Homo sapiens: one gene and its partners. The protein of the gene in region 2 purifies or fractionates together with the protein of the main gene of each other region. This does not show direct contact. Each region holds a gene or a part of one and is shown on either strand. Other genes may lie near its edges.

Region 1 (7,406 bases), on a different chromosome or scaffold from region 2:
AATGGATTTTACTCTTAAGAGCAATGGGAACCAGAGGGGAGGGGTAGTTAAGTAGAGTAATTATTTGATCTTTTTTTTTTTGGGGGGGGACAGAGTTTCATTCTTGTTGCCCAGGCTGGAGTGCAATGGCGCAATCTGGCTCAGTGCAACCTCCACCTCCCAGGTTCAAGCGAGTCTCCTGCCTCAGCCTCCCGAGTAGCTGGGATTACAGGCATGCGCCACCATGCCCGGCTAATTTTGTGTTTTTAGTATAGATGGGGTTTCTCCGTGTTGGTCAGGTTTGTCTCCGACTCCCGACTTCAGGTGATCCGCCCGCCTAGGCCTCCCAAAGTGTGGGATTACAGGCGTAAGCCAGCACGCCCGGCTGATCTCCTCCCTCCCTTCCCTCTTTCTTTCTTCCTTTCCTTTCTTTTCCTTTCCTTTCCTTTCCTCTTTCCTCTCTCCCTCCTTCCTGCTCTCTTTTTCTTCTCTCTTTTTTCTTCTCTTTTTCATTCCTTCCCCTTCCTTCCTATTCCTTCCTTTCCTTTCCTTCCCTCACCTCCTCTCCTCTCTCCTCCCCTTCCCTCCCCCTTTCCTTCCCTCCTTCTGAGTTTTGCTATGTTGCCCAGGCTAGAGTGCTGTGGCATGACCTCGGTGCACTGCAACCTCTGCCTCCTGGGTTCAAGTTATTCTCCTGCCTCAGCCTCCTGAGTAGCTGAGTAGCATGCACCACCATGCCTGGCGAATTTTTGTATTTTTAGTAGAGATGGGGTTTTGCCATGTTGGCCAGGCTGGTCTCGAACTCCTGACCTCAAGTGATCCATCCGCCTCGGACTCCCAAAGTGCTGGGATTAGCCTGGCTGATTACTTTACATTTTGAAAAGATCACTGCTTTGTGGAGAGTGGGTTATAGGGCAAGTGTAAAAGCAAGGACAGTAATTAGGAGAGTTTTGTAAAAGTGCAAATGTGAGAAATGGTGGGGGATGAAATACTAGGGCAGCAGAGGTAGAGCTGGTGAGAGGATATTCTGAAGGCAGGACTTCATAACGGAGTGGTGAGGAAAACGATGGAATCAAGGATGCATCCTGGATTTTTTTTAACAAGACACACTAGGTTAGACATGAGATTGGGAAAACTCAGGGAGTTGTCCCCCTGAGGGACAAGGGAAACTCGAGGTTTTTGGCAGTGTTAAATATGAGCTATTAATTGTCCATGGGTGGCGGAGGTTGCAGTGAGCTGAGATCGCGTCACTGCACTCCAGCCTGGGTAACAGAGCAAGACTCCATCCCCCAGCACCAGAAAAAATGCAGGAGCGAAGGAGATAGGATCCACAGCACAAAGGGAAGAACTACCCTTTAACACATACAGAGACATTTCACAAGGACAGGAGGAAAGAGCAGTATTTAAACACAAAGAGGTTGACCAGGAGCAGTGGCTCAGACCTGTAATCCCAGCACTTTGGGAGGTCGAGGCAGGCAGATCACTTGAGCTCAGCAGTTGGAGACTACCCTGGCCAACATGGTGAAACCCTAAAAACACAAAAATTGGGAAATGCATGTTCTAGCTTTCTGTGTGCTTAGGTGCCCATGCTACTGAGGGTCTAAGTCCAGGCAGCCGAAGAGTGTGGTGAGCAAGATGAACAAAGATGCGCAGATGAGAGAAGCCATTAACATATTAAAGTAATTTAAAGTTTGGGTGGTCTGGATATCATACTGTTTTAGCCTAGATTTTACTCTGGATACTTTTCAGAAGTAGCTGGCACTTTAAACCATATGTTCTATTAAACGTTCTTTCCAAGAAATATCTTGAGTGATCCCAAGGAAAACTGGACAAGTGGAATCTCTGTCTTTCAACTTTGGGATAGTGATTATACCTCTGTTAGTGCTCATCCACCTAACAAAGCTTGGCAATCCAAGTTAGTATCCCAGGGGAGTTTAGTTTGGTTGGATGGTGGAAGACTGATTTTTTTTTTCCATTTAGCACTGTCTAGCCAAGAGACACCACTATTTACAAGTTCTTAGACAGCTGAAAGGAAAATAAAAATGCCTAATTTGTGGAGGAAATCAGGAAGTCTAAAAATCCAAGAAAAATATTGCAACAGAAAAATGAAAGCTGACTTCATCTTAAAGAAACATGGCTTACAGGTAGAAAATGCCAATATCAGGCCGGGCACTGTGGCTCACACCGGTAATCTCAGCACTTTGGGAGGCCGAGGTGGGAGGATCATTTGAGGTCAGGAGTTCCAGACCAATGTGGCCATCATGGTGAAACCCCATCTCTACTAAAAATACAAATATTAGCCAGGTGTGGTGGCACATGCCTGTGATCCCAGCTACTCAGGAGGCTGAGGCATGAGAATTGCTTGAACCCGGGAGGAGGTTGCCATGAGCTGAGATCGCGCCACTGCACTCCAGCCTGGGTGACAGTGTGAGACTCCCTCTCAAAAAGTAAAAAATAAAATATCAATATTGTATCTTCAATAATTTACCTTTCATATGGTCTAAAGAGGTTTTTGTTTTGTTTTGAGACGGAGTCTTGCTCTGTTGCCCAGGCTGGAGTGAAGTTGTGTGGTCTCGGCTCACGGCAACCTCTGCCTCCCGGGTTGAAGCAATTCTCCTGCCTCAGCCTCCCGAGTAGCTGGGATTACAGGCTCCCCCGACCATGCCCGACTAATTTTTGTATTTTTAGTAGAGGGAGTTTCACTATGTTGGCCAGGCTGGTCTTGAGCACCTGACCTCGTGATCCGCCTGCCTTGGCCTCCCAAAGTGCTGGGATTACAGGTGTGAACCACCACGCCAGGCCAGGTCTGTTTTAAAAATATAAAGTCGTTATAAAGAACTCTCAAGTGTGTTGCAATAAATGCTGGATTGACGCTGTTAACAAGAATAAACTAGAACTTATAATATATGCCATGTCAGAGAAGGAACTAGATTCCAGAAAACAGAAGGTAGTTCTCTTTTACCTTACTGCCTAATGCTAGTGTCAGAACCACAGTAAAGCCAGCAACATTTGAGACCAAACCCGAGGACAGTCCTCAGGATTTTACAGGTGAGGGGCCTCGGCTTCAGGGAAGTGGCTTGTGAAACACCTTTTTGAGGGACCATTATGTAATAGCTAGAGTTGCTTTCGAAAAAAGAAATAGCCTCGAGCCGAATGGGGAGAGAACATGGGGCATTGCTATTGGGTTCACAGCTGTCTTGGGCTAATCAGGGCAAAGCGTAGCACTATGACCTATGCAGAGTTAGCTCGCCAGGGACAGTAGCTATTCTAGAGAACCTTTTGCTTTTAGCTTTGTATTCTAGGATTGGGTGAGGTGAGGGATGCGGGCGCCCATCCCACGTGTGACAGTGGGAAACTAATGGAATTCAGGGAGTTCACTTCCCGGCTCGCACTCCGGGGGCGGGAGGGTGCTGCCACCGCCTCAGGTCGCGCGCTCCTTAGGCTTCCCTCTCACGGTTAGCGCTACGGCTCCAAGGCTGGCGCCTGCTCTTCTTCATCTCCCTCCCCGGCCCTTGGCAGGAGCCTCGCCCTACATTGGCTCTTCAAGTCCGGGCGTCCCCTTCATGTGGGAGACACAGCCCAGACCATTCCATCGCCCTGGATTCTGCCCGGACCAGCGACCTCGCCGGACTGAAGATTTCTCCAGCAAGATTGTTTTAAATAAAGTTTTTGCCATCAAAAAAAAAAAAAAAAAAAAAAAAGGAGATGGGAAGGAGAAGAGGGAGGCCTAGTCGCCAAATGGTTGGCCAATCCGCCGCGAAGGGGCTGAAGCAGGAAGCGGCGATAGTCGTCGGTAATTGGCTGCGCTGGAAGCCTGTCTGGACTGTACCACCTCAGTAGGAGAGGGGTTGCTGAATTCGAGAAGGTAGCTGCTTGCTTTTGAGTACTTCTAGTACACACACATAATTCTTTTCTTATTTCCGGGGGTTTTTGCTTGGATTCAGTGGGAATACAACAGGACGCAGGAGAAGGGAAGACTCGCCTGGCCATTTCCTCATTCCTGACTCCTGTGCATTAGGCCAATCCTTGTCTCTTAGTTGTCCCCGCAACCCCACGGCCTTACGTGCGCGCTCTCGTCTTCTCGCGTGCGTACGTCGTTGTGTTGCTGCAGCCAATCAGGCCGCGAGGTCGCCGCGGTCGCCAGGGTTCGCGCGCACGCCCCAGATCGGAGTCGGGGTGGGGGCTATGGGTGAATGGGAGAGTGAGCGGGGTTGGGCGCGGCAGCGCGAGCCGCATGAATGAGACAAACGTGCGCCGCGCGAGACGTCGCGCGAGCCCGGACTAGGGAGCCAATGGGAACGCTGGAAGGGTTCGAGACCCGGCACTGAGGGCAACGGCCGCGCGCCGGCTCCGAGACGAGCGACGCCTGGCGGGAGCGCGCGGCAGCGGGGCGGGCGTGGAGCGTGCGGGGGCCGCGCGCTGCTTCTCTGAGGCAGGACGGCACTGCCGGGAGGCGGCGGTGACAACGACGGCGGTGGTGACGGGCACCGGGCTCGCGGGTGAGTGCGGAGGACACCGGTCCCTGCGGAACCGGAAGTGCCGTACCAGCGAGGTGGGAGGGGAGGGTGACCTCTAGGGAAGGGGGACCGAAGACGGGGAGGGTATTAAGGCCCTATTTCTCCTCCGGGCCGGGTCTTCCAACCGCGGCGGGACCCATGGGCCTTGGAAACGGACGACGAGTAGAGGCCGGGGATCCACGACCGCCAGGGCTCGGAACGGGTTAGAGACGGCCACTCAGCTCGAGACCGCGGTCCCCGGTGCCTGGCGCCCAGCCGCCGCCCCTTCCGCCCCCGGCCCTGCGCCCTCGGGCTCTGCGGTCCCCGCAGCCCGCTCTCTCAACCTCGGTGGGCCTGGCCGCCGTGGATTCCTTCTTTTCGGTTTCAGCGGTCGTCAGCCCTGCCCCAACGGGTGATTCTCCTTTCCCCAGTCCCGTGGTGGGGACCGGGTGCTGTTTCCCTTTTACCGCTCTGCGGTTCGAGTCCCTCGCTCCACTCTGCTGATACTTATTTTGGCTCAAGCTTCATCCTGTTACCTGTTCTCTCTCACCCGTCCGCTTCCTCCTCCTACCGCCACCAGCCGAGTGCTCCATGCGTTTAGTACTTTGTACTTTTTAAAGTGGAGCCCGAATGCGTTTGTCAATATTTTACCTATATTTGGGGCAGGCAGGTGGAAAGTGTTTTACCCACTTGGCCAAATGAAACACTGAAATAAGAAGTAAGAAAGTTGCTAAAAGTTAGGAAGGCAGTTGTAGGATCACATATACGTTATACGCTAGACTATTTTTTGCCTTGGATTCTTCACTTCCTGGTTAATGCCATCTTGACCAAGTTGATCTAACATTTGCATATCATCCTTCTATCTCAGTATACCTCTGTCCTGGATCAAATATCTTCAGAATGCTCATTATCACCCATTGTATAAACTTAATGTTTACAAAATTATATTGCCATGTATTTTGCTACCTCGGTATATAATGATAACACCCACATTAAACTTCTTGGCTCTTTCTCCCATACCTTGACATGTGAATTATTCCATGGTACCTCCATTACTGTGCATTTAGATTTACTCTATTGTACTGTTACACCGCTTATTTCAACAAAAAATAGTTGTGTTGTCCTTGGTACTGCTGGTATCCACCTATTTAAGGAAATACCTGTATTAAACCTTATTAAAGCCTTCAAACCACATATCCTGTATTGTTTGTTTTACATATACATATTTCCATTTCATAGTTTACTCTGTGCCTCAATATGGCATACATATTACTTTTTTTCTCATTTTTGAGACGGAGTCTGGCTCTGTCGCCCAGGCTGGAGTGCAGTGGCTGCTATCTTGGCTCACTGCAACTTCCACCTCCCGGGTTCAAGCGATTCTCGTGTCTCAGCCTCCCTAGTAGCTGGGATTTCAGGCATGCCCCATCACGCCCTGCTCATTTGTTTGTATTTTTAGTAGAGACAGGGTTTTGGTATGTTGGCCAGGCTGGTCTCGAACTCCTGACCTCAAATGATCCGCCCGCCTCGGCCTCCCAAAGTGCTGGGATTACAGGCGTGAGCCCCCGTGCCCAGCTGGCATACATATTCTTGTATACTTTTTTGATACTAGTATGGATTCAAACTGTTGACTCTGATGAACCATACTCACCCTTGTGGTTTCATCCTAGTATCTGCAGCACATTCTTTTGCTAAGAATTGGTTCATCTTTATTTATACCCAATAAATTGTTAGGTTTTTGATTTCCCTTCTACTGTGTAGCCCCCAAGCATCTCAGATGCTGTTCTCTTTTGTGTTCCCAGTATTATACTCCCAAAATTGCATGGCCTTTCATGACTCTGTATTACTATGTCAATATTAGTCCATGTGACTTTTTTCCTGTGGAAAATATATGAAACAATATATAGTATCTAAATGATATTCTACTCTAGATAAAATTTAAGTAGTATAATTTTCCATCTTTTCTAGTCTTTGGGATTTTGAGGGAAAAGTTTGCTTTAATAGTACATATTGGCTGGGCAGAGTGTCTCACACCTGTAATCCCAGCACTTTGGGTGAGGAGGCAGATCACCTGGAGGTCAGGAGTTCGAGACCAGCCTGGGCAACATGGTGAAACCCCATCTCTACTAAAAATACAAAATTAGCTGGGTGTGGTGGTGCCCTCCTGTAATCCCAGCTGCTCGGGAGGCTGAGACAGGAGAATTGCTTGAATCCGGGACTCGGAGGTTGCAGTGAGCTGAGATCACACCATGCACTTCAGCCTGGGTGACAGAGGGAAACTGTGTTTCAAAAAAAAAAAAAAAGTACATATTGTCTACAAATCAAGAGTTTGCTTTTGTTAACAAAGTTACTGAGGCCTACATTCCAAATGTTAGGCTTCCATTCCTGTAGGAAACTGAGAGTTAAATAATCATTAAATCAGGGACTAGAGAGGATTTATGTTTTCTAGGACTATAACAGTTTCTTAGAATCTTTTGGCGCTCACTGTATTCTAATACTGCTGTTTGGCCCTCTGAAACCCTAATTTTAAAGAGAGAAATGAATCGTAAGGGAAGGCACCTTTGCCTTCCATGCCATAGGTGAGAGAGGAAGTGGTACATTATAGGGCACATTTATATTTTGTTATCTGAATCTTCTGATTTTTTTTTTTTTTTTTTTGAGACAGAGTCTTGCTCTGTTGCCCAGGCTGTAGTGCAGTGGCTCACTGCAACCTCCGCCTCCTGGGTTCAAGTGATTCTCCTGCCTCAGCCTCCTGAGTAGCTGGGACTACAGGCGCCCGCCCGGCTAATTTTTGTATTTTTAGTAGAGAAGGGAATAAAACTACTTTCTTTTAAAATTCTAACTTAAAATTTTTGGCTTGCAGATTCCAAGTTATCATCTCTGGGCAGGTAGTGGATGAAAAGGTAGAAAGGGTTTGTGTCACCAGAGGGGCAT
Region 2 (6,902 bases):
TTTGGCTATAGACTGAAGTACTAGGTGCTTCTAAGGCATCATTAAATTTGTTATGTGCGATAATGATATTATGATTATATTAGCAGAATGTCCATTTTTGTTTGTTGGTTGGTTTGTTTTGAGACGAAATTTTGCGCTTGTTGTCCAGGCTGGAATGCAGTGGCACAATCTCGGCTCACTGCAACCTCTGCCTCCCTGGTTCAAGCGATTCTCCTGCCTCAGCCTCCCAAGTAGCTGCGATTACAGGCACCCACCACCATGCCTGGCTAATTTTTTGTATTTTTAGTAGAGATGGGGTTTTCACCGTGTTAGCCAGGCTGGTCTCGATCTTCTGACCTCAGGTGATCCACCTGCCTCGGCCTCCCAAAGTGCTGGGATTACAGCCGTGAGTCACCACACCCGGCTTCAGAATGCCCATTTTTTAAAAAGGAAGATTGCACACTAAAGTACGTAAAAGTGAAATAGCACGATGTCTGGGATTCGTTTAAAAATATTTCAGCAGACTCGGCATGGTGGCTCACACCTGTAATCCCAGCACTTTGGGAGGCTGAGGCAGGAGGATCCCTTGAGCCCAGGAGTTTGAGACCAGCCTGGGTAACCTAGTGAGACCCTTGTCTCTAAAAATAAATTAAAACAAATTTAAAAAAAAATAAAGGGCCAGGTGCGGCGGCTCCTGCCTGTAATCAGCAATTTGGAATGCTGGGACGGGCAGATCACCTGAGGTCAGGAATTTGAGACCAGCCTGGCCAACATGGTAAAACCCTGTCTCTACTAAAAATACAAAAATTAACCGGGCATGGTGACAGGTGCCTATAATCCCAGCTACTTGGGAGGCTGAGGGGAGGCAGAGGTTGCAGTAAGCCGAGATAGCACCATTGCACTCCAGCCTGAGAGACAAGAGTGAAACTCCATCTCAAAAAATAAATAAATAAATAAATAAAAATAAAATAAATAAAATAAATAAAATTTTAAAAATAAATATTTCAGCAAATAACAATAGGAAAATGCAAGTTTCAAAAAAGGTATATGGTATTTTGTCTAAGAAAAGAGAGTATGAGAATATATATTTTATTTTCTTGGGTTTGCATTGGGAGTATACACAAGAAACTTATGAAAATGAAAACCTGGTCGGGTGCAGTGGCTCAAGCCTGTAATCCCAGCACTTTGGGAGGCTGAAGTGGGCAGATTGCAAGGTCAGGAGTTCGAGATCAGCCTGACCAACATGGTGAAAACCCATCTCTACTAAAAATACAAAAATTAGCTGGGCACGGTGGCAGGTGCCTATAATCTCAGCTACTCAGGAGGCTGAGGCAGGAGAATCGCTTGAACTTGGGAGTCGCAGGTTGCAGTGAGCTGAGATCGTGACGCTGCACTCCAGCCTGGGTGACAGGGCGAGACTCTATGTCAAAAAAAAAAAAAAAAGAAAACCTATAGCATAGGTGGGAGAAATGGGGGTAAACATGGAAGGATGGGATCATGGGATCAAGGCTTCTTGAGCTTTTTATATTCCTTTTACTTTTTAACTATTTGAATGTATTATCTAAAGTTTTTAAGAAAATAAACAGGAAATAAAAGTTAAGTGAACATGAAAATGTTCAGAACCAGCTCCCTACACACACAAGAGAGTTAAAGGAGATCTCTAGACCCCTTCATATCTAGACTTTAATGAACTAATAAATTGTTAATGTTTTATAAAGCTGGTCTCAGTAGCAATTCTAGAAATGAGCAGAAAACAAAGTGGTAAAAACAAAACATCGCTGGGCACGGTGGCTCATGCCTGTAATCCCAGCATTTTGAGAGGCCGAGGCAGGTAGATCACCTGAGGTCAGAAGTTCGAGACCAGCCTGACCAATATGGTGAAACCCTGTCTCTACTAAAAATACAAAAATTAGCCGGGCATGGTGGTGTGCGCTCTTAGTCCCAGCTACTTGGGAGGCTGAGACAGGAGAATTGCTTGAACACAGGAGGCGGAGTTTGCAGTGAGCCGAGATCGCGCCACTGCACTCCAGCCTGGGCGACAGAGCAAGACTCTGTCTCAAAACAAAAACAAAAACAAAACAAAACAAAACACAGAAACTGAGGGCTGATGCTTTTAAGAGCCTTGACCAAGTTCATGCTGCTAATAAAAATAACCCCAGACCCCATATTTAATCTATTCTACCTTATGCTTGAATATGGTCATTTGCTGGTTATTAGTTATGTGGGAAGACAAACATTAAATTAATAAAACATAATTTATAGTGGAAAAAATCTGTCACTTAGGGGGCTTATGCTCTCATTCTAAATCACCAATCATGTGCCTTTCGGCAAATCAATTTTCTGAAGTCTCAGATTCCTTGTCTATAAAATGAGAAATTGGCCGGGCGCGGTGGCTATGCCTGTAAACCCAGCACTTTGGGAGGCCGAGGCGGGTGGATCGCCTGAGGTCGGGAGTTCAAGAACAGCCTGACCAACATGGAGAAACCCCGTCTCTACTAAAAATACAAAATTATCCGGGGTGGTGGCACATGCCTGTAATCCCAGCTACTCAGGAGGCTGAGGCAGGAGAATCACTTGAACCCGGGAGGCAGAGGTTGCAGTGAGCCGAGATCATGCCATTGCACTCCAGCCTGGACAAAAAGAGCGAAACTCCATCTCAAAAAAATAAATAAATAAATAAAAATAAAATAAAATAAAATGAGAAATTGATTATGATCTCTTGAGTAACTGCCACTCTGCAATGCTATGGGAAGTACACACATTGAACAAGTTGCATATTTATATTAAATGCCATTTGTTTATATTGAACAAATTTGGTATTTATACCCAATGCATTTAATGGCATAAATGTGAATGACAAAGAAACTCAGGAAGGCAAGACATAGAGGAAGGCCACTGGCTTTTCAGAAACCACTCAGCCTGTGAGCTCACTTCCCTTTTATAAAAAAAAGCTTTTGCTTTTAAGGTGTCCAGATAAAGGTCACACTCCCAGAGCTGAGGCTACGTGAGTCTAAGCTGTTACCTCAGTTATGGGAGTGTGGCTGGAACTCAACACTTTCTGATCATTCATGGCCAAAGCCTCTTGGGGTAGGGGAGAGGGGGCACCTTGTATGCATGAGATGAAACAGGATACCAAGATCCCCTTAATTCTACTCAGAGTAGAGGAAAGGAACTGTTGCCAAAAGGAACATGTTTTTTCTAAATTGAAGAGTTGGAAGTTTGAAGGTCAAAGTCAGAATATTAGAACAGAGAGCCATGCATGTATTATCTAATACAATTTTCTCATTTTATAAATTATATAAATGAGGAAACTGAGACTCAGCAAGGTTATAGGATACAACCTAATCTGTGTTAGAAGAAGGATGAGAGTGAGGCTTATGCTGGGAGTTGCTATGGTCTGTAAATGTGAGGATAAGGAACATGCCATTCACTGTTGTGTTCCACTTCCTAGTCCAGTGCCTGGTGCAAAGTAGGGGCTTCATAAACTTTGGTCACAGGCCTGATGAAGGGACTGATTTGAGTGAATGAATCCATGGATGATGCATCTGTACTTTGTGTTCCCCGCTAGTCAGATGGACTCGGACATGCTCCATTTCAGGTGTATCTCATCTGAGACATTATTAGAGGGTTCTCTTTATGTGCCATGACTGAGTAGCGTTTTCTTCCACTGAAGTATTGCTTCCTCTTTGTTGATATCACAGGACAGACATCAGAACACTTACAGGATGTGTGTAGTGTGGCATGACAGAGAACTTTGGTTTCCTTTAATGTGACTGTAGACCTGGCAGTGTTACTATAAGAATCACTGGCAATCAGACACCCGGGTGTGCTGAGCTAGCACTCAGTGGGGGCGGCTACTGCTCATGTGATTGTGGAGTAGACAGTTGGAAGAAGTACCCAGTCCATTTGGAGAGTTAAAACTGTGCCTAACAGAGGTGTCCTCTGACTTTTCTTCTGCAAGCTCCATGTTTTCACATCTTCCCTTTGACTGTGTCCTGCTGCTGCTGCTGCTACTACTTACAAGTAAGTCTCGGCATGGATATTTACAATGACATAATGGTGCTGTACAGAGGACAAGGGAGAGATACAAGGATGGCCATTGTAATGTTGTTTGTAATAGCAAAAGCTTGGAAGCAACCTAAATGTCCGTCGATGAGGGAGTGGGTAAATAAATGTGATATAATCATGATACAAACAGTGAGTCTGACAAAACATACTGGTATAGAATGTCTCAAAATTATAATGTTATTAAAGAAAAAAAGTTGCAGAATAATGCATATATTAGGCTTCTATTTGTGTGTGTGCATTGTCGGGGAGCAGGAATATGTGGACATTTCTTAATGTATAAGCTCTAGGAAAAGGAACCAGGGAATGGTAAAGAGTTGGGAGAGTAAGGCATATTTTTCTTTTCTTTTCTTTCCTTTTTTTCTTTTTCTTTTCTTTCTTTTTCTTTTTTTCAATTGAGATGGAGTCTCACTCTATTGCCCAGGCTGGAGTGCAGTGGTGGCACCATTTTGGCTCACTGCAATCTCCGCCTCCCAGGTTCAAGTGATTCTCCTGCCTTAGGCACCGGAGTAGCTGGGATCACAGGCGTGCACCACCACACCCAGCTAATGTTTTTAATTTTTAGTAGAGACAGGGTTTTACCATGTTGGTCAGGCTGGTCTCAAACTCATGGCCTCAAGTAATCTGCCCATCTCAGCCTCCCAAAGTGCTGGGATTACAGGCGTGACCCACCGTGTGCCCGGCCACTTTTTCATACACCTTTGATAGTGTTTGAATGTTTTTACTGTAGTTGAGTCATATGAAAACAAAGGGGACATAAAAAATCAAAAGAAAATATATAATGAATGTTTTATCATATATAAAATATATATAGTTTTTTTTTAATGGAATTAACTTTGTCATTTGAGGAAAATGAGGAGACAAGTCTCAATCATTTTAGGAGATTTGTTTGCCAAAGTTAAGGAGGCACCTGAGAGACAGGTCTATGACTTTCTCAGAAGATGATTTTGAGGGCTCCAGATTTAAAGGGGACAAGGTGGGATATTGAGAAGCACTCAGTTTTCACATAAAAAAGGGGGGGGGGCAGAGGAAAAATATGGGGAATCTGCATTTTACATTAGATAACACAGACAAAATGGGGTAGGGAAACAATCAGATAACGCATTTGTGTCTGGCCAGGGTGACCGCACCGGTAAAGATGAGCTATCAATCTGCATTGCACAGCTGACCAGGAATTTCCTTGTGGGCAAAATATGGGGGAGGTATGCAGCCTTTCATCCTGTAGCCATCTTATTCAGGAATCAAAAAGAGGAGGCAGGTTTCTGTGACCCAGTTCCCAGCTTGACTTTTCCCTTTGACTGAATGAGTTTGGGGTCCCAAAATTTAATTTCTTTTCACAACTTTAAACCTTAAAACAACTCCATGAGTAGTTTCAAATACACAAGATCCTTATTTAACCAAGGGTTTGTATTTACTGTGCACTTGCTGCTTAAAAAGAGAAGTATGTTAGGAGAGCCTCCCTTTGTTGATGAACAAGCAAGTAGCCCAGATGGGCGGGCCGTTTCCTGGCTGACCATGACTAATTTTCTGATTGTCTGTTTCCATCAGCCCTGTTCTCCCGTGTTCACAGAATTGGGCCACAATTCTCTCCTAGGGCAGTGTTTCTGAAAGTGAGGTTCTGAGACCAGCCACTTCAGCAACACTTGAGAACTTGTTAGAAATAAAAGTTCTCAGGCTCTACCACAGGCCAACTGAGTCAGGAACTCTAGCAGTTGAGCCCAGCAATCTGTGTTTTCGCAAGGCTTCCCAGTGATTCTGATGGCCTTCACATCTGAGAAGCATTGTCACAGCGAATCATCCTCCAAACAGGACTGCAGCAGTAGCTTCCTCTTTATTCTGTAAGACATGGCTTGCAGTTTTCCTGAAATGGAGTAACCTCACTCACCGCTTGAGTCTTGGCTCTCCTTCTCTCTCTATGCAGGGTCCTCAGAAGTGGAATACAGAGCGGAGGTCGGTCAGAATGCCTATCTGCCCTGCTTCTACACCCCAGCCGCCCCAGGGAACCTCGTGCCCGTCTGCTGGGGCAAAGGAGCCTGTCCTGTGTTTGAATGTGGCAACGTGGTGCTCAGGACTGATGAAAGGGATGTGAATTATTGGACATCCAGATACTGGCTAAATGGGGATTTCCGCAAAGGAGATGTGTCCCTGACCATAGAGAATGTGACTCTAGCAGACAGTGGGATCTACTGCTGCCGGATCCAAATCCCAGGCATAATGAATGATGAAAAATTTAACCTGAAGTTGGTCATCAAACCAGGTGAGTGGACATTTGCATGCCATCTTTATGAATAAGATTTATCTGTGGATCATATTAAAGGTACTGATTGTTCTCATCTCTGACTTCCCTAATTATAGCCCTGGAGGAGGGCCACTAAGACCTAAAGTTTAACAGGCCCCATTGGTGATGCTCAGTGATATTTAACACCTTCTCTCTGTTTTAAAACTCATGGGTGTGCCTGGGCGTGGTGGCTCACACCTCTAATCCCAGCACTTTGGGAGGCTGAGGCCGGTGGATCATGAGGTCAGGAATTCGAGACCAGCCTGGCCAACATAGTAAAACCTTGTCTCCACTAAAAATACAAAAAATTAGCCAGGCATGGTTACGGGAGCCTGTAATTCTAGCTACTTGGGGGGCTGAAGCAGGAGAATCACTTGAACCTGGGAGTCGGAGGTTGTGGTAAGCCAAGATCTCGCCATTGTACTCCAGCCTGGCTGACAAGGGTGAAACTCTGTCTCAAAAAAAAAAAAAGAAAAGAAAAGAAAAGCCAAAACTCATGGGTGGAATGTATAGATGGGATGAAAGGCCTAGATCAGTGGTTAGAGACCCTGACTCTCATTAGAATCACATAGAGAGTTTT
Region 3 (7,047 bases), on a different chromosome or scaffold from region 2:
AGTCTCACATTTTATGACCCATAGGTTCACAGACCATTCCATATTCATTTATCAAGCAACAGTTTATTAAGCACTTCATCTCTTAGCACTATGCTAGGAGGTGCCAGAATTACATTTACATCAAAAACCAGAAAAGACAGCTTCCAGCCCTCATGGCCCTTACAAACGAGTGAGAGAGACAGACAGTAGGCTCAAGGGCATTTAGTACTGTAATGGGGGCAGCACTTCCAGGATGCTGCAGGAGGCACAGAGGAGGAACAGCCAATTCTGACTCAGGAGATTATGGAAGCCTTCTTGGAGGAAGTGATGTTGAGACTGAGAGCGGAGGGATGAGCGGAAGTTAGCTAGGTCATAGGAGTGAGGGGTGGGGTGGCGGGGAGAACTTCAGGCAGAGAACAGGATGCACCTTCTCAGGGGCATATGGGTATATTTGACATCTAATTATTTTTGTTTTTAGAATTACCTGTTCAGTGTTTATAATCTCCTAGCACATCTATGCCAAATAGAGCTAAGAGGTACCCTGGACCAGGGTTTTCAAAAATATCTGCTGGTTCTTCAGTTCTGGAAGGTTTGCAAAATTCTGATGTGACTTTGATTTCTAAGTGTTATTTAATATTTTTAAATTAAAAATTTTTATTTAGCACAGTTTTAGATTACTATTTAATTTTTAAGTTTAAATTTCAGGCCGAGTGTGGTGGCTCACACCTCTAATCCCAGCACTTTGGGAGGCTGAGGTGGGCAGATCATGAGGTCAGGAGCTTGAGACCAGCCTGACCAACATGGTGAAACCCCGTTTCTACTAAAAATACAAAAATTAGCTGGGCATGGTGGCATGCACCTGTAGTCCCAGCTACTCAGGAGGCTGAGGCAGGAGACTCGCTTGAACCCGGGAGGCGGAGGTTGCAGTGAGCCGAGATCGTGTCACTGCACTTCAGCCTGGGCGGCAGAGCAAGACTCCGTCTCAAAATAAATGAATAAATTTCAAACTAATTGCAAAGTTACAGAAAAGTTGTGAGGATAGTACAAAAGAAAATCCCCTCAAAAGTCCCATATATTTTTAATGACTTTACCACTTGTTAGTATTTTGCATCATTTGCTTTAATCATTTATATGTCTACCAATATATATGCACGCCCTCCTTCCACCTCCTCATCTTATTATTTTTATTATTCTTGCCAAACAGTTCGAGACATCATTTTACTCCTAAATACTTTAGCAGATACCTGCTAGAAACAAGGACATTATCTTGCAGAATCCCAGTAAAATGATCAAGTTCAGAAAAACTAGCATTGATACTATCCTACTATCTAACATCGCGTCTATATTTGAATTTCACCAATTATCCCAACAATGTCCTTTACATTTTTCTGGTTGGAGATCCAGTCCAGAATCACCCATTGCCTTTAATAGTGATGTGCCTCAGCCTCTTTGTCTTTCACATCATTGATATTTTTGAAGAATACAGGTCAATTGTTTTGTAGGATGCCCCTTAATGTGAGTTTGTTTGATGCTTCTTCATGATTAGATTCCATTTACGTATTTTTAGCAGGTAAATGATATGTGTCTTTTTCAGGAGACCATATCAGGAGGCTCATGGTGTCTGTGTGTCTCATGATTGGGGATATAAACTTTTATTTGTTTTATTTTTTGTATATTTTAAACTGTAACAAAAACATGCATCTCCAAATGTGTTTCTATTCAAATTTTATCACAAAGAACATTCATAATGAGCTAATCTGCTCTAGGTTACCTTGACTGAATGCAGACCAGAGTATTCAGTCTCTCCTGCCGGCTGTGCATATACCTGAACTTTGCTCAAGTGTGTCATTGATTAATAATGTTGTAACTGCACATTGGCCTAGAAATGCTGAATGTAAAGTTGTATGGGTAACAAATTACTGCTTAGTTATACAAACAAGAATTTGCTTGACACAGTACAATGAAAACAACATACAAAAGTAAACTGGAATCCTGAGGCTAATAGTGAGCCCCATTGAGCAGATTTGGGTTCATCATGAGAGCATCAATGCCTAATTTTATACTAATTTGGACTTATACAAGAAATTAATAAAATACCCTTTGCATATGTTGTATATGTGTTTTATATGTTGGGTTCCTATATAAGATGTTGATTAAAATGAGGATCTCTTACTTTGGCCATTTGGAAACCACATTGTATCCCACCATAGCTCCTAACCACTGTACAATTTCTGCAACTCTCTCATCATCTGCAAGCCGTGATGTTTCTTTTCCTGGTACCTGGGATTTTGCCCTAATTTTTAACACCTACAGAGCTCAGGGAACACACATATATAATTTACCAAAAGGTTTTGGGGTGTGGTCCCTGGATGCTCCAAAGTGCATACAGTTTGAGATTTCTTTCTTTCCTTCTTGAAGTTCAGTTCTGCTTATGTTAAAACATGCCAATACAAACATTAGGAATACAACCATACCCTATGCAATAACCTACTTAGCCACTGACCGACACCTCCACAAATGACCCAACCATAGGACAGTCCTACCTTATTCCAGAGCTTTTATTCCACAAATGAGGACACTGATATCGAGACAGGTGGATCTCCTCCTTCTGAAGGACAGCTGCTAACGGTAGTCAGATGCAACCCAGCTCTGCTGGTGCCAGGGATTGGGGTGGTTTTCTGATGGCAGAGGCAGTCCCTCAGGAGGTGACAAAGCTCCTTTCCTTTCTCTTAGCAAGTGTGGGTGGCTGGCAGCTGAAGCAGGCCTTGGGCAAGGTCCTTCAGTCTGGTTTACTCATCTCAAACTCAGCCAGAGTTGAAGCCCAGCCAGGTCCTTGGAGGCCTCTAGATTTCCTCGTAGATTTTGTAATAGAAGATGTCCTAACAGAAACACAGGACTGAATAAATGTAGATACCTTAGAAAGTCATTTATTTAAAAAAAATAGCTGGGCATGGTGTCATACACCTGTAGTCCCAGCTGCTCAGGAGGCTGAGGCTGGAGGATTGCTTGAGCCCAGGAGTTTGAGGTTGCAGTGAGCTGTGATTGCACCACTGCACTCCAGCCTGGGTGACAGAGGGAGAATTTGTCTCCAGAAAAAGAAAAAAAAAAAAAAAAGAAAGAAAGTCATTTGTAGTATATTTTCTTTGGGAAAATACATTGAGTTCAAAAAGAATTTTCCAAGCTCAACCAATGTATCAATAAATTGGAGACTACTTACAACTCACTTCATTCCACTGAACCAGTATGGATTTCATATTTATATATGCAAAGTAGTACAATAGTTATTTGGTGGATGCAAAAAGAATGGTCCCATGCTCAAGACATCCGCAATAATCCTGGAGAGATGATACAAAGATATATTAAAAACTTAATAATCATATAAGGTAATGTCTGATGACATGCTCGGATGAGTGGAAGAGAAAATGGGCCACTGAAGAATGGAGGTAGTCAGACGTGGTTGAACGCTGCGGCTCCTAAGTCAAATGACCTGCGTGAAACCGCAGCTGCTCCACTTCCTAGTCGTATGGCAAGTTTCTTAAAAGTTCTCTAAGGCGCTGAGAACAGCTCTGGGCATTTTTGGTGCCCCAAAAATGTTAGCCATTATTATTACCTCTCAGTCTGTGCTTGAACCACCACTTCAAGAATGGGCAGGGTGTGAGTAGAGAGGCGGGAGTGGGTTTTGGAGCAGGGTGACAGAATCATAATGAATTGTCCTCGCGAAAAGCTCCACGAACTACTTTTCTAACTTTGTTGGCAGCTACCAAGTGTGGGCGGCAGGCGGCCATCCTCTTGGCCGCCTGAGATCCCAGCGCCTGTCCCCAGGGGGCGCTGCCACCCAGCTGCCGCCGCCCGGCCCAGCGCGCGTCCCCGCCGCCCACCCGCGCGTGCGCGCCGCCCAGGTGAAGAGGCGGCGGCCAGGGCCGCGGCTGGGGCGGGCTCCTCAGTGGGCCGGGAGGGGCGGAGCCGGGAGGCCCGGGCGGGGCGGAGCCGGGACGAGCCCCAGGCTGGAGGCGGGACCAGCCGCTGCCGTCTCCGTCTCGGTGTCCCGGCCCCTACAGCGCCCGGCAGCCGCGGCGGGAGGAGCGGAAACTGTCGGGTGCGTCCCGTTCGGAGCCGCGCCGGCCGAGAAGGCGCCGAGGAGCAGCGAGGCGGCCTCTGTCCGGCCCGGACCCGCCGAGCGGCGTGCGCGCCCCCTCCCCGTAGCCTCGCGGCGCGGCCTCGCCCCGGCCCCTCCCGAGCTCATCGCGGGCCCACGGAGCGGCCCCGGAGGCCCGAGCGCGCCCACCTGAGCCCCCGCGCTGGCGCCATGGCGGAGCAGGAGAGCCTGGAATTCGGCAAGGCAGACTTCGTGCTGATGGACACCGTCTCCATGCCCGAGTTCATGGCCAACCTCAGGCTCAGGTGAGGGCGGAGCGGCCGCGCGCAGGGGCGCGAGGCTGCGCTTTCCCGAGAGGGGGCGCCTCGGGGCGCGGCCGGATCCGGGGTGTCGGGAGCGCCCAAGCTCCAGGGATGGAGGCGCGGCCGGGCTGCGGTGTCCGGGGGTCTGCCAAGCTCCGCGGCTGCGCTTTCCCGAGAGCGGACGCCCCTGGGGTGCGGCCGCTTTGGGGTGCGGGGGGCGTGTCGAGCTCAAGGGCCGCGCTTCCCTGAGAGGGGAGCCCTGGGCGCTGTCCGGGGTTTAGGTGCAGAGGGTGTGCCGCGCGGGAGGGCGCGCTTCCCCGCGCCAGGTGAGGGATGTGGGCGGGCCGGTGACCTCATGGAAACTGAAGGGAAATAACTTGAACGAGAGTTGCGGTGGCCCCGAAGGCCCTAGGAGGACTGGAGGATTATTTTGGAGAGAGGCTGGCGTCTCATCCCGGCTTTACACTTGCTTCTTTTCTTTCTTTCTTCGCCCTTCTTTTTTTTTTCCTCCTGGCGTAGTTCCATCCTGTCATTCAGGATGCTATGGAGTGATCCCTGAGCTGTCTGTTCCGGGACACTGGCTATTTTTTTAGTTACTCTCTAAACGTAATTAGACACGTTTCCAGACATCGAAGAGACTGCTGTACTTGCCAGTGCCAAGATAAACTGTCTGAATTTGACAAGACGTTCATGGTTTTGGTTTTTTTCAAGGAGTTAGTGGATGGAGCTCTTGTGTTATTAACATCCTTGAGAACGTAGTCACAACTCAACGCCCCAAAATGGGCTTCCAAGATGTGGATTTGTTTTAGAAAGCCCTTTACATGCGATTATTTCACCCTTGATAGAGTAATATGTAAACAGTTTTAAAGTAGTTTGACTTAAACATTAAAGTAAGTGGAATTTCAAAATAGCTGAGTTTTGGTGTGCGTGTGTATGTTTCCCTGCAAGCTTTGGCTGCATTTCTTCTAAGGTTTATAGCTAAACATCATTCCTTAAGCTTATAAAGTGAAAGTCATAATCTAGGCTTGGGTGCTTAACCCTAATTTCATTATTAACTACCCCTGTCAATCCAGTTGACAGGGGTCAATCAGGTTGATTACATACCAGCATAATGATAGGATGTTACATTTCTGATCAAGGTTTGGATGTACAACTTTTATAGAAATCACCCCAAATATTAATCAAAATGATATACCTCTACATCAGCTATAACCAATACCCATTATCATAGTGATTAAGAGTCAGACTGTTGAGATTCAAATTCTAGTTCCACTGCATTCTTGCTGTGATCTTTGAGCAAGTTACTTAACCTCTCTGTGCCTCAGTCTTCCCGTCTGTAGGATTGGGGTTGTCCTGAGGGTTAAATGAATTATTAATAATATGTGTATACATACTTCAAAGATTAGTGCCTGGCAAATCCATATTAGTAAAACTGTTTTAAGTTTTCCCAAGTGCACATAAAATAGATAAAGGGGTAAGTTACATAGCAATTTCATAGATTAAGGTTGTTTTAAATTAAGAGATTCTACTCCTCTCCCCCACAGGAAATAAGTTGTGTGCTTTGAGAAATGCCTTTATAATTTTGTCACTCTCAGTTATAATCATTTCAGTTTTTCAGACATTGGTACATTTATTATGTACATACTGTATACAAGACCATGTAGTAACAGTTGAATATGAAGCCTTTCATTTTAACCTCCATCTTTCACCTCCAGCAAATACATGGGCTTAGCCAGAGCTTTTGCAGAATTTTCAGAATTTGAAATTGAAGGCATAGAGTCTAACAGGGCTACATTAGTTTGTAGGACTACTCCTCTGTAATAGAATTAAAACTCTTGTGGTTTTTAAAAAGTAAATTGAGGGAAGGCACTTAGAATTTCTGCTTTTTTTTTTAAAGCATTAAGTCTCTTAAGTGTGAAGTTTGAATCTCAAAATAGATTACTAAGGTGAGCCTAACAACTCCTATGTGTACAGAAGAGAATGCTGCAATTTATTTATATTTATATTTATATTTTTTAGAGATGGGCCCTTAGAGTTGCTATGTTGAGCAGACTGTTCTTGAATTCCTGGCCTCAAGCAATCCTCCCATCTTGGCCTCCCAAAGCACTAGGATTATAGGTGTGAGCCACCATGCCCGGCCGAATGCTGCAATTTAATTCTACTGTGTGCAAGGTACTCTAGGAGATAAGCTAGGAGTATCCAAAGAACTACAAGATGTGCTGCTTACCTCTCGAAGAGGTGACATCTCAATGAAGACCTGGAGAAAGGTGGAATTTTCTATTGATTTAAAGAATAGTTCAAGAAAACAACATCAGGAGGCTGAGACAGAAGGATTGCTTGAGCCCAGGAGTTCAAAGCTGCCGTGAGCTATGATCACACCACTGTACTCCAGCCTGTGTAATAGAGCACGACCCTGTCTCTTAGAAGAAAAAGAAGAAAGAAAACAGAGAGAGACAGAGACACAAAGAGAGAGAGAGAGACAGAGACAGATAAAGAGGAAGGAAGGGAAGGAAGGAGAGAAAAGAAAAAAAGAAAGGAAAAGAAAGAGAAGATAAAAGCCTTATAAAGCTTAGGTGATTATTTGTCAAGTAATTATAGAAATTGTTCTGGAAGTTCAGAAGAGAGAGAGATACCTTAGGTTGACTCCAAAACACCTTATAGAGGAAGAGA
Region 4 (5,402 bases), on a different chromosome or scaffold from region 2:
CCTCTCCCAGGGCAAGTGCTGTTAGGTCACCTTTACTCCATTCCCTCCTTTTTTCACTTGGTGAGGCCTCACACACTGTACCTGCCCACGCAAAGTGTCACTAGAAGGAAGGGAAAGGGTAGTAGGATTCGTTTGCCTGTCTGGAGGTAGGATTGGTCTTTGTAGCTATTCCAGGTATGTCCATAAGTTTACCTAGGAATAGGGGAGCTGCCTGGGTGGAGAGGGATTTTTCTAGTTATGCATTTACATTCTTTTATCTGTCACTGGGTGTAATTATAAATTTGTGTCTATGTGTGAACATGTTAGTCTTTGTATGACTGTGTGTCTGTTGGCATTAGTGACACGAACTTTTAATCTTGCCATTTGGCCCTTGGGTATATGGCTGTGAGTGTTCTGTCACAATCACCATATATGCTGTGTGCTGTGTTCGTATATATATATGCAATACATACCAGTGTCAGCGTAATGGAGTGGTTAGGAACACAGGCGGCTTAGATTTAACCTAGAAACTGCTGTTTAGGAGCTGTATGACCTCAGGTAAGTTATTTAGCCTCCCTGGGCCTATTTCCTATAAAATGTAAATAGTAATAGTACTTTCTAGACTATCATATGCATCATTTTAAGAGTTTAACTTAATGTATAGACCAGTACTGTTCTACAGAAATATAATGCAAGCCACAATGTAATTTTTTTATGGTAGCCACATTTTTACAAGGCAAAAAGAGTGAAATTAATTTTAGTAATATATTTTCTTGAATCTGATAACATCCAAAAGATTATAATTTCTTTTTTTTTTTTTGGAAATGGAGTCTCACTCCATTGCCCAGGCTAGAGTGCAGTGGCGTGATCTTGGCTCACTGCAACCTCCGCCTCCCGGATTCAAGCGATTCTCCTGCCTCAGCCTCCCGAGTAGCTGGGATTAAAGGCATGCGCCAACAGGCCCGGCTAATTTTTGTATTTTTAGTAGAGACGGGGTTTCACCATGTTGGTCAGGCTGGTCCTGAACTCCTGACCTCGTGATCTGCCCACCTCGGCTTCCCAAAGTGCTGGGATTACAGGCGTGAGCCACTGCGCCCGGCCCAAGATTATAATTTCAAAATGTAGTCAGCATAAAAGATTAGTAATGGATATCTCACATTTTGTTTTTTATTCAGTCTTTGAAATCTGATGTGTATTTTACATTTCCAGCACATCTCAGTTCAGACTAGCTGCATTTCAAGTAGCCACATGTAGGTGGTGGCTACTTTCTCGGACAGCACAAGTATAGACCATTATAAGACCCTTACCAGCTACAAGTGTTAGCTATTATTCTTGTTGTCATTTATTATCAGGTATCTGTGAATTGTAGATGTCTGTGTCTTGTGTCTCTTGTCTGAATATATCCGGAGCCTTTGGGAAGAGTGGTGGGAGAGCAGTCCTGAGCTCTTTCTCCACCACCCTCATCCTAGAGAGCCTTCCTGGGAAGGTTTCAATGAGACCCCTGCCCCAGTTTGTGTCTCAGGCCCTTGTCCTCATAGCACCAGCCCCCAGCCCTGCCTTCTGTGCCTTGCCTACCCCACTCTCCTCCAGAAACCAGGCTGATTGTCCCTTGCCCCATCCCCTGCAGGTGGCCAGAATGGATTTGTGGCCAGGGGCATGGATGCTGCTGCTGCTGCTCTTCCTGCTGCTGCTCTTCCTGCTGCCCACCCTGTGGTTCTGCAGCCCCAGTGCCAAGTACTTCTTCAAGATGGCCTTCTACAATGGCTGGATCCTCTTCCTGGCTGTGCTCGCCATCCCTGTGTGTGCCGTGCGAGGACGCAACGTCGAGAACATGAAGTGAGGGGCAAGGGGTCTTGGGCAATGAGGGAACCTAAGGGTACAAAGTGAGTAGTGGATTGGGGGAAGGGGGCATGGTGTGTGTAGAAAAGACTGAGAGAGACCAGAGACAGGGAATGGGGAGAGGACTGCAAAGGTGGTCAGAAAGACAGTAAGGTGGGGGGAGCTGAGGCATGCAGATGGACATCAATGGATCCCACTGGGACCCCTTGCCATGACCCCACAGGATCTTGCGTCTAATGCTGCTCCACATCAAATACCTGTACGGGATCCGAGTGGAGGTGCGAGGGGCTCACCACTTCCCTCCCTCGCAGCCCTATGTTGTTGTCTCCAACCACCAGAGCTCTCTCGATCTGCTTGGTGAGACCCCACCACAGGGCACACCTCCCCCAGCCATGCCTCCCCTCCTGAAACCTTCCCTAGAATATCTTCTCCTAGAGATCCTCAATTCCCCTTCCTCTGGGACATTGCCCCCTTGCCTCCCACTCAGGCCTTCATTCCCTGGGTAGAACTGCCCTCATAAGCAGGTTACATATACTTTTGGTCACCCTTTCCTTCACTTGGGGCCCCCCTCCCTGCCTAGTCTCCTCCTTCACCTCCAGTCCCTACCAGAGGGTGATGAGCTGGGTGAGGTGGGTTGCCTTCTGTGACACTCTGCCTCCACCCCGATCCTCACCCACTCCCACCCTGCCCAAGGGATGATGGAGGTACTGCCAGGCCGCTGTGTGCCCATTGCCAAGCGCGAGCTACTGTGGGCTGGCTCTGCCGGGCTGGCCTGCTGGCTGGCAGGAGTCATCTTCATCGACCGGAAGCGCACGGGGGATGCCATCAGTGTCATGTCTGAGGTCGCCCAGACCCTGCTCACCCAGGACGTGAGTCATCCTGGGGAAATGGGGGATTGGAGGGATACAGAGTAGAACAGTTGTAAATAAACTGATATGCAGGGCCAGTGGGCCTCAAAGGTCCCATTATAACATCACACCTATTCTGACTCCTCCATATGTATTTGTCTTCTTTGACCCTCTTTCTCCCCCAGGTGAGGGTCTGGGTGTTTCCTGAGGGAACGAGAAACCACAATGGCTCCATGCTGCCCTTCAAACGTGGCGCCTTCCATCTTGCAGTGCAGGCCCAGGTGACTACTGCTCTTCGTTCTGCTACTCAGCTGCCAACCCCCACCATTCCCTCATCTCTGGGCAGGGGCTTATTGTAGGAGTCTCTGAAGAGAGCTGTGGACTGACCTGCTTTAACCCTTCCCCAGGTTCCCATTGTCCCCATAGTCATGTCCTCCTACCAAGACTTCTACTGCAAGAAGGAGCGTCGCTTCACCTCGGGTGAGGGCTTTGAGCAGTTCTGGGGTAGGGTGTGTCCGGAGAGGCTGGGAGGACATCCCTGTGAGGCAGGGGGATCATTCAGTGTCAGAGCCATGAGATGTCTACACAGTCATCTAGTCTAACCCCACATCAGCCAATAAGTCTTTACTAAGCACCCACCATACCCTGCCAGATGGGTAGCACTTGGTCCCACCAAGAGAGGCTGTTACTAATCTTAACAGGAAAGATAAGGCCTGTGTGCACAAAGCTGTAATGAATAACACTCATTCAGCAGTAAATGCCAAACCCAGAGGAGGGGGGCTGGAGGGGTGCTGAGGAGATGTCTGAACTGGGGATTGGAGAAGGCTTTGTATAGGAGAAGGGCCTCAGAAGTGGCAGCTGGCAAGCCCAGGGATGGTTGTCCAGGGTTGGGGGAAGAGAACTGAAAGGTTGAGGAAGAGTATCACTCGGAAGCTGGGCCCCACCTGTGGGCAAAGACCTGGGTGGACAGGCCATGATGGTGCTCCCCTTGCCCCAGGACAATGTCAGGTGCGGGTGCTGCCCCCAGTGCCCACGGAAGGGCTGACACCAGATGACGTCCCAGCTCTGGCTGACAGAGTCCGGCACTCCATGCTCACTGTTTTCCGGGAAATCTCCACTGATGGCCGGGGTGGTGGTGACTATCTGAAGAAGCCTGGGGGCGGTGGGTGAACCCTGGCTCTGAGCTCTCCTCCCATCTGTCCCCATCTTCCTCCCCACACCTACCCACCCAGTGGGCCCTGAAGCAGGGCCAAACCCTCTTCCTTGTCTCCCCTCTCCCCACTTATTCTCCTCTTTGGAATCTTCAACTTCTGAAGTGAATGTGGATACAGCGCCACTCCTGCCCCCTCTTGGCCCCATCCATGGACTCTTGCCTCGGTGCAGTCTCCACTCTTGACCCCCACCTCCTACTGTCTTGTCTGTGGGACAGTTGCCTCCCCCTCATCTCCAGTGACTCAGCCTACACAAGGGAGGGGAACATTCCATCCCCAGTGGAGTCTCTTCCTATGTGGTCTTCTCTACCCCTCTACCCCACATTGGCCAGTGGACTCATCCATTCTTTGGAACAAATCCCCCCCACTCCAAAGTCCATGGATTCAATGGACTCATCCATTTGTGAGGAGGACTTCTCGCCCTCTGGCTGGAAGCTGATACCTGAAGCACTCCCAGGCTCATCATGGGAGCTTTCCTCAGCACCTTCACCTTCCCTCCCAGTGTAGCCTCCTGTCAGTGGGGGCTGGACCCTTCTAATTCAGAGGTCTCATGCCTGCCCTTGCCCAGATGCCCAGGGTCGTGCACTCTCTGGGATACCAGTTCAGTCTCCACATTTCTGGTTTTCTGTCCCCATAGTACAGTTCTTCAGTGGACATGACCCCACCCAGCCCCCTGCAGCCCTGCTGCACCATCTCACCAGACACAAGGGGAAGAAGCAGACATCAGGTGCTGCACTCACTTCTGCCCCCTGGGGAGTTGGGGAAAGGAACGAACCCTGGCTGGAGGGGATAGGAGGGCTTTTAATTTATTTCTTTTTCTGTTGAGGCTTCCCCCTCTCTGAGCCAGTTTTCATTTCTTCCTGGTGGCATTAGCCACTCCCTGCCTCTCACTCCAGACCTGTTCCCACAACTGGGGAGGTAGGCTGGGAGCAAAAGGAGAGGGTGGGACCCAGTTTTGCGTGGTTGGTTTTTATTAATTATCTGGATAACAGCAAAAAAACTGAAAATAAAGAGAGAGAGAGATCTGGGTGTTGGTGGTTGCATTTGTTAAGGAATTGAAGAAGCAGTTCTTGCCCAGGCAACCTGCCCCCAGCCAGAAGACTCAGGGGCAGGCCAAGAACACAGGCCTCCCCCTTTCTTCAGCTCTCTGAAGTTTCCATTGTTCATTGCTCTTTGGTGGCTGATAGCCTTATCTGCAGCTCACAGTCGGCCAATCCCAGAGGATTAGTGGGTCCGGTTTCTGTATAAATTAGGGGGCAGGGGTGCTGTAGAGGCTTCTTATCGATGATTGACGCCGAGGCCCAGGCTGTTGTCCTCACAGGAGCCTGGTTAATGACATGGCAGACACAGTGGCTGTGGTCAGCCTGGAGTGGACTACACTGCCACTCTCACCAAACAATAAGTGAAACTGTTGGGCTGGGGACAGGATTTCAGAAGAGAACGATGGTAAAGTGGAGAGGCATGAGGATAGTGAATGTTGGAGAGGGGCTTGGAGGAAAGAGGGAATGCCTGAATGGAGAGGGGT

The links.
Region 1: the proteins of HAVCR2 (region 2) and ZDHHC5 purify together in Homo sapiens (co-immunoprecipitation; 3 studies listed by BioGRID and IntAct, with this or other methods). This does not show direct contact.
Region 3: the proteins of HAVCR2 (region 2) and MYO1D purify together in Homo sapiens (co-immunoprecipitation; 3 studies listed by BioGRID and IntAct, with this or other methods). This does not show direct contact.
Region 4: the proteins of HAVCR2 (region 2) and AGPAT1 purify together in Homo sapiens (co-immunoprecipitation; 3 studies listed by BioGRID and IntAct, with this or other methods). This does not show direct contact.

What each region holds. Positions count from the first base shown.
Region 1 is NC_000011.10:57,663,710-57,671,115, forward strand, and holds the start of ZDHHC5 (palmitoyltransferase ZDHHC5), read left to right. Parts: upstream 1-4,404; 5' UTR 4,405-4,478; exon of another isoform or gene 4,479-4,887; intron 4,888-7,406. UniProt on the Homo sapiens protein: Palmitoyltransferase that catalyzes the addition of palmitate onto various protein substrates such as CTNND2, CD36, GSDMD, NLRP3, NOD1, NOD2, STAT3 and S1PR1 thus plays a role in various biological processes including cell adhesion, inflammation, fatty acid uptake, bacterial sensing or cardiac functions.
Region 2 is NC_000005.10:157,106,026-157,112,927, reverse strand, and holds the start of HAVCR2 (hepatitis A virus cellular receptor 2 precursor), read left to right. Parts: upstream 1-3,883; 5' UTR 3,884-3,944; coding exon 3,945-4,002; intron 4,003-5,965; coding exon 5,966-6,301; intron 6,302-6,902. UniProt on the Homo sapiens protein: Cell surface receptor implicated in modulating innate and adaptive immune responses. Generally accepted to have an inhibiting function.
Region 3 is NC_000017.11:32,874,111-32,881,157, reverse strand, and holds the start of MYO1D (unconventional myosin-Id), read left to right. Parts: upstream 1-4,033; 5' UTR 4,034-4,285; coding exon 4,286-4,380; intron 4,381-7,047. UniProt on the Homo sapiens protein: Unconventional myosin that functions as actin-based motor protein with ATPase activity. Plays a role in endosomal protein trafficking, and especially in the transfer of cargo proteins from early to recycling endosomes.
Region 4 is NC_000006.12:32,167,710-32,173,111, reverse strand, and holds the end of AGPAT1 (1-acyl-sn-glycerol-3-phosphate acyltransferase alpha isoform 1 precursor), read left to right. Parts: exon of another isoform or gene 1-174; intron 175-1,606; coding exon of another isoform or gene 1,607-1,615; coding exon 1,616-1,815; intron 1,816-2,041; coding exon 2,042-2,175; intron 2,176-2,511; coding exon 2,512-2,687; intron 2,688-2,851; coding exon 2,852-2,947; intron 2,948-2,995; exon of another isoform or gene 2,996-3,073; coding exon 3,074-3,146; intron 3,147-3,663; coding exon 3,664-3,836; 3' UTR 3,837-4,900; downstream 4,901-5,402. Other genes in the region: EGFL8 (epidermal growth factor-like protein 8 precursor), read right to left, coding at 5,156-5,202. UniProt on the Homo sapiens protein: Converts 1-acyl-sn-glycerol-3-phosphate (lysophosphatidic acid or LPA) into 1,2-diacyl-sn-glycerol-3-phosphate (phosphatidic acid or PA) by incorporating an acyl moiety at the sn-2 position of the glycerol backbone.